Regions from separate parts of the Homo sapiens genome. Here region 2 is linked to region 1. A link means that fine-mapping ties the variant in region 1 to the expression of a gene that starts in the linked region. Tissue or cell type: testis. Region 1 holds a variant in brackets; the other region holds the start of a gene. All regions are shown on one strand. Distances are from middle to middle.

Evidence for each region. PIP is the estimated chance that this variant, and not a neighbour inherited with it, causes the effect.
Region 2: TBX20 starts here. The variant in region 1 is the best candidate, but not a certain one, in a credible set for the expression of TBX20 in testis (GTEx, PIP 0.88).

Annotation. Positions count from the first base shown.
Region 1 is chr7:35,228,365-35,231,277 of GRCh38, reverse strand. All of the region lies in intron 6 of TBX20 (T-box transcription factor 20), which reads left to right. Among named protein-coding and RNA genes, the nearest start is that of TBX20, 24 kb to the left of the region's middle. RefSeq lists an enhancer at 1,510-2,376. The variant A/G (reference allele first, on the strand shown) is at 1,265.
Region 2 is chr7:35,252,306-35,255,218 of GRCh38, reverse strand. TBX20 (T-box transcription factor 20) reads left to right here and starts at 1,119. Exons shown (of 8, transcript NM_001077653.2): 1 at 1,119-1,725. The coding sequence starts at 1,599. RefSeq lists an enhancer at 1,622-2,198.

The DNA of each region.
Region 1 (2,913 bases):
GACATTTATTCTACTATAAAAAATAGGGCTTTGTTGTTATTAAAGACTTAGTCCTCTTGACATTCTTAAGCTTCGTGTCTCAATGAGTGGCAGTCTATAGAGAAACAGAACCGTGATAGCCTTTTACCTTCCCAAGTAGATATATTTGCTAACACAAAGAGTGTAAGGGTAGTTGGGAATTTTGAAACAAGGAGATGTAATTTAATTCAAGGTCACATAATTTTACCAATGTAGTAGACTGCTTATATTTAATAGGAGAGACATCAGGCAGGCCTCAGGACCTCTAAGAAGACAAGTGAAATCATGTGCCTGTAACTTACCCTACTTTTTACTCAATTAAAATGGTTCATGCAGTTTGAGACCATTGAGGTGATGAGTAATGACTATATGGAGATACATATTTTGCCCAGTATGAATGTCAAAAATTGTTTTTCAAAGAGAAGATTTTTAAACCTAATTGATTATTTGTACTTCTTAAACACACTAATTCTTTTATGTGGTCCAATGTCTTAATTGACCAGGGAAGTTCCCTAGCCACCAGAACCACTGATTTTCTTATCTCTACATCTGTGTAATTTCCCTACTAACTGCTGCACATTTCTGCTGCACTCTTTGTTACCTATATAGCCACATCTCCTGACCTCAGCACTTCTGTCTAATCTATCTTGGCAACTCAAATTAAAAGATAATTACATATTTTAACAACCTCTGTCTCAGCCTTCCTAAGCCTTCCCAAATGGCAGAATGTGAGGGGGAGGTTTGATTTAGGGGAACAGACTTAGAGGCTCAGTGGGGAAGCAGAGGAGCAAGCAGGAGAGGCTGAACATTGGCCAGGAACTATGGGATTTGAGCAGAAAAGAAAGATTAAATAGTTGGAGAGCTTGACAAGTTGGTTGGAAGTGTTGAGATCAGGAAAAGAAACTTGAGCTTGTGATTGAAAATCCATTGCAAAGTCCAGAGAGAAGGCAAGTGGTAACTCAAATTAGGTGGGATACAAGTCACTGAGAATGTGGTACCAGCAGTATGGACCACAAAGGAGTCCACTTGCAAAAGGCAACTTCATTTAGGCATGACTTTATTTCCTGTTTCTGAGGGCCAGAAGCCCTGCTGCAGACCGGGTTTATGTAGTTGGGATTGTTATAAGTGAACTTTTTCTCAGTTTTATTCAGGTATTAAGTAAGAATGGAGACAATGATGCAGTGGGGTGATAGTGATCCGTTTTTATAGTGTGTGTCGTATTTTCTGTCTCAGACCATGGGGGTAC[A/G]CGTGATATATTGGGAGAAAAAAAAAGTTAGGGCTTAGAGTCTCACCTCTGCCTTTTCCTGGGTGAGTGATCCTGGAGAAGTCACCAGACTTCTGAGTCTGTACGCTCATCTAGAAAATGGAAAAAATAACCCTGCTCACCTCAGAGGTTTATTCTGAGAATCAAATAAGCTGGCATTTATGACAGCATTTTATAAATCTAAAAATGTAAAATAATTACAAGTTCTTCATCTTGTTATATGAGCATTTCATCTAACAACTTTTATCCCATGTAACTCTATGTTTCATAGTCTTAATAAACTACTCCTAGAGTAAAAATAGCCTTGTAGTTGCACATTGGTTTACAAGATAGGAGGTACTCAGTCTGACTGCTCTTTACAACGGCAGATTTGATAATGCATGTGGCCACATTTTCCACTTATTGGATAAGCATCCTGATGTGGGAGCACTCACATGTACATGAAGCTAAGTAGCTTTCAATGGTCTGAGGGCAAAGACAGCACTCTTACATGACTAGCTGAAAGTTTGCAAGATGACCTAAGTAGTGTGAAATTGGCCGAGGTTTTGGATTTCATTTCCAGATATTTAAGTCTGAATTTTTCATAAACAGCCTTTGGGGATGGGACAAATCAGATCAATTGATCTTTAGAGACCTAAAGAAATTAAATTAGTCTGGAGTCAGTTACTGCACTAAACCATCTAGTAATTGAATTGCTCCTTGTAACTGATTGAAAACAGCCCTATCCTTAACAATATAGGGAGCTTTTCTTTATAAGAGATCTGAGAGAAAAACACATATTTTTATGACATGATGACAGATATTGCACTTTTCTAACCTAATTGAATATGATGTTATAAATATGTGACCTTAATGATTTCAAGTTTCCTGTTTCAGATTTACAGCTTAATGTGTGGGACACCCAAACAAAAATGCCTTTGGGATTGGATCTGTTTGCCTGTACCTCTAAATTCACAGTTTTAATCCTTCTACAGCTACACGAGCTTTTGAGATACTCTTAAAGGTGTTTTAGTTTTCTTGCTCTAATTTTACTAGCTCCCATTGAGGTACTTGAATGTCTCACTTTGTGTGTAGCCTTACTCTTCAGGGACATCGTCTTCCTCATTTCTAAAAGAAAACCCACCTCACTGGCAAAAATAGAAAGTGTTTTCATTACTGCTTTGTAATATACCTACTGTGGTCAACCGAGAAGCAAACCAAAAGCCCAAAGGGATATCTTTGTATAATCTAATGTCTAGTTTCTCAGATTGGGGAAACAATTATTGGCTGGTTCCGTATAATAACAAGCTTTAGACAGTCATTCAGTTGGCATTTTATGTTTCTTTTCTGGGGGCATGCGGTTCACTTTGTCCAGTACACAAAGGCACAGTGTTCCTTCTGAGAAAAGAAAAATAACTGGGAGGAGTTATCTATGTTTTATTCAAAATTAAGTTTCTTTTATTAATTTTTTTTCTTTTTACTAAAAGAGTTTGTGTGCATTGCCAAAAAATCAGAAAATACGGACAAGTAAGAAAAAGCATAAAAAAGCAGTTAAACCCCATTTCCTTAGAGATGACCTCTGGCAAAACCCCATTATATATTCTTTCAGATACTTTCTTATGCACGTATGAACATTTACTTCCTTTAAAGTT
Region 2 (2,913 bases), 24 kb before region 1:
GGTGGTGCAGTGAAAAGTTGGAGTTTTAAAAATTATTATTATTATTTTAATTTTAAGACCCACGAAGAGGCTTCTAATAGCCAGACCGACTGGCTGGAAAAGAGAACAAATATTTACATATACAGCTTGAGTGTGTATGTCAGCCTGAGTTTACACGGCTCCAAGCGAAGCGGATTACCCTGCGAATTCGGAGAATTTGAGTTATTCAGGCTGAGCAGGGCTAACAGGACGCCCTCCAACAAGGCCGTGGGAAGTCCTCGTCACAGCCGCCTTTGTAAAACCAGAGGGGTCTGTGTCCGCTTAGTCCGGGCGCTACCATAAGGTTCGCACTCTCCCACTACGCGTCGCGTGGTTACCGTAGAGCTCCGCGCCCTGACCTTCGCCTTCTCTTCGGCAGCCGTCCCATTTTCCAGGGTCCCTCTAGGGAAAATAGGAGCCCCAGGCTAGAGACGCACTGGTGAGGAGCAGAAGCCACGGTTCTGAGAGCAGCATCCTTTGCCAAATGCCCGCAGCTCTCGCTAAGCTTATCTTTTTCAGGGCTGCATTTGCTCAGCCCCACTGTCAAAGAGATCAAATTTGGGACCATCGAATGAGAGTCCCAGCCCTGGGATCTGCCCCGAGTATGGACCTGGCCAGTTGGCGCCGGCTCAGAGGCGCCGGATTCTACTGAGCGCTTCCCTACTTTCTTTTGGAACTTTGAGCGCAGGTAAGAAAAAGAATGGAAAAAGCGAGAACTCCCGAGGCTTCCACTGGTCTGGTCATAGCTTCCCCAACTGGGCCATGCCCGGATCTCGGGCGTTAGGCCGCGGTGATGTGTCCTCTCCCGACAGCGCGCACCGCCCTCCCGCCCGGGGCTGTGAGACCAGGTGGGGATGTCCATGGCTGCTGCGTCAGCCTAGTGGTGGCACCCTTTTCCCTGAACCTGTGCTGGGGTACCGAACAGCCGGGGCGACAGGCCACGCGGGCGCCGCACCCTGGGCGCGCCCTCCGCGCCCGGCCCGCGGCCCCGCCCCCGGCGGCGGAATCAGGAAGCGGTGACGTGAGACGGCGCTGACTGGCTGCGGGCCTCCGGGATCGCCGCCGCCAGCAAATTAAGGCGCAGGGCAGCGAGCGCCAGGGCTCACTGTCCGTAGTTCCGCGCCGCGCTCCCCACGCCAGCGTCCTAGCAGCCGCGCTCGGCTGGTGGCCACCTCAGCCTGGGACATCCCGGCTGTCCCCAGCCCCAGAGGGAGGAAGGACGCGGAGGGGATGCTCCAGGACCCCAGGACTTTGTGCAGTTGATGCTCGTTTCCGCCTTCGGGCTGTGCAGACTGTCGTCCTGCCGAGCGCCCCGGGGCGTGCGCACCCGCCGTAGTGCTCGGTGGGCCCTCTCCTCTCCGGCTGCCTTCGAAGTCTCTGCGGCTCTGGGGCTTTGCGGTGGGGAATAGAGGCCAGTGTGCAGCTCTGGAGTCGTTGGAGCTGACACTTCTGGAGTCCCTGGCCCCGCTGTGACTGCTCTCGGAAACTTTGAGCTGTGTTTCGGGTCTTTGTCTCCCTTGGGGAATCTGGACGGCAGTTCGGACGACCCCGTCCCTGGCCAGGACCGCGTGCTGGGGACCATGGAGTTCACGGCGTCCCCCAAGCCCCAACTCTCCTCTCGGGCCAACGCCTTCTCCATTGCCGCGCTCATGTCGAGCGGCGGCTCTAAGGAGAAGGAGGCGACGGAGAACACAATCAAACCCCTGGGTAAGTTGGGCTACCCGGCTGTCCGCCGAGGACTGGGGATGCTGCGCATCCGTCTGTGCCCCTGGCTGCAGGCGGCTCGCAGCAACGTCTGATGCTCAAGCCATGAGCCATACATCGCGGGTGGGAGATCTTTTTCTTTTGGGTCCAAGTTTTCTTTGGAGGCTTCAGTCTGTTGAATGCTGTGAATGTGCATCTTATATCTGGGCCCGTCGGTCTCCTAAGTTGTCTAGAATCCATATATCAGATCAGACATATGGTGTGTGTGTATGTTTGTTGGGTTAAAAACATTCATGGAAAAATAATAATAAAACCCCTTTTAAGGCTCAACAGGATTTACTGTGCATGTAACACCTGCTTGTGCGTTTGAAACGGAGACGCTAAAGGACTTCATAAGAAACCAGTTTAATTTTGGTTTTCCTCTGACTTGAATAGACAAAACAGAGCAAGCTCTTTGAAACCACTGTAAAGCAGAATAAGCCAGTTCTCCCTACACGAACCATTTTATTCACTGAAGCTCTAGACTTATCACCAAGACATCATTTTATAACTGTCGTCATTTTCAGTTGAGGTTGGCAAAAACACTAACCAGTAACCATTTCTCAAATTCCTCTACTTTTAGTTATGTTGTTTGTTTAACAACCTTTACCATTTATAGAAGACACTAGGCTAGGAGTAAAGGGAGAACAGGGATTATGTTCTTCTTAACACTAGTGAATTACATGGAAAAGAACCACCCCAAGATAAATATTTAAGAATCTCTTTACAACTGAGGGAAAAAGAAGTGTTCTCATCATTGCCTCGTGGATCCCCAGGAAATAATTGTTACACAGCCTGATCGTCTGGTATCACTACAATGTGAAAATCAGATAGCAAACTTAAGTTAATTTTTCTTTTTTAACCCTCCCCAATTTTTCCTTTCTTCTCTCTGTCCTTCCCACACTTAACATATCACATCCAAAATAATGATAACATGAAAAAAAGGAAGTGTTAGAGATCAAAAATAAGGTGTTTGGGCTTAAAGATGAGAGAAGTAAAATTCCTGTAGCTACTTGAAACCAAGGAAAAAGAAACTAGTAGATCTGTAGAAAACAGAATGTCAAAAAAAAAAAAAAATCTGTCCTCTAAGTTTTCACCCCCTTCCCCTGGTTCTTCCCACCCACCTCCCATCTAAATCTAAACCTGCCAAAG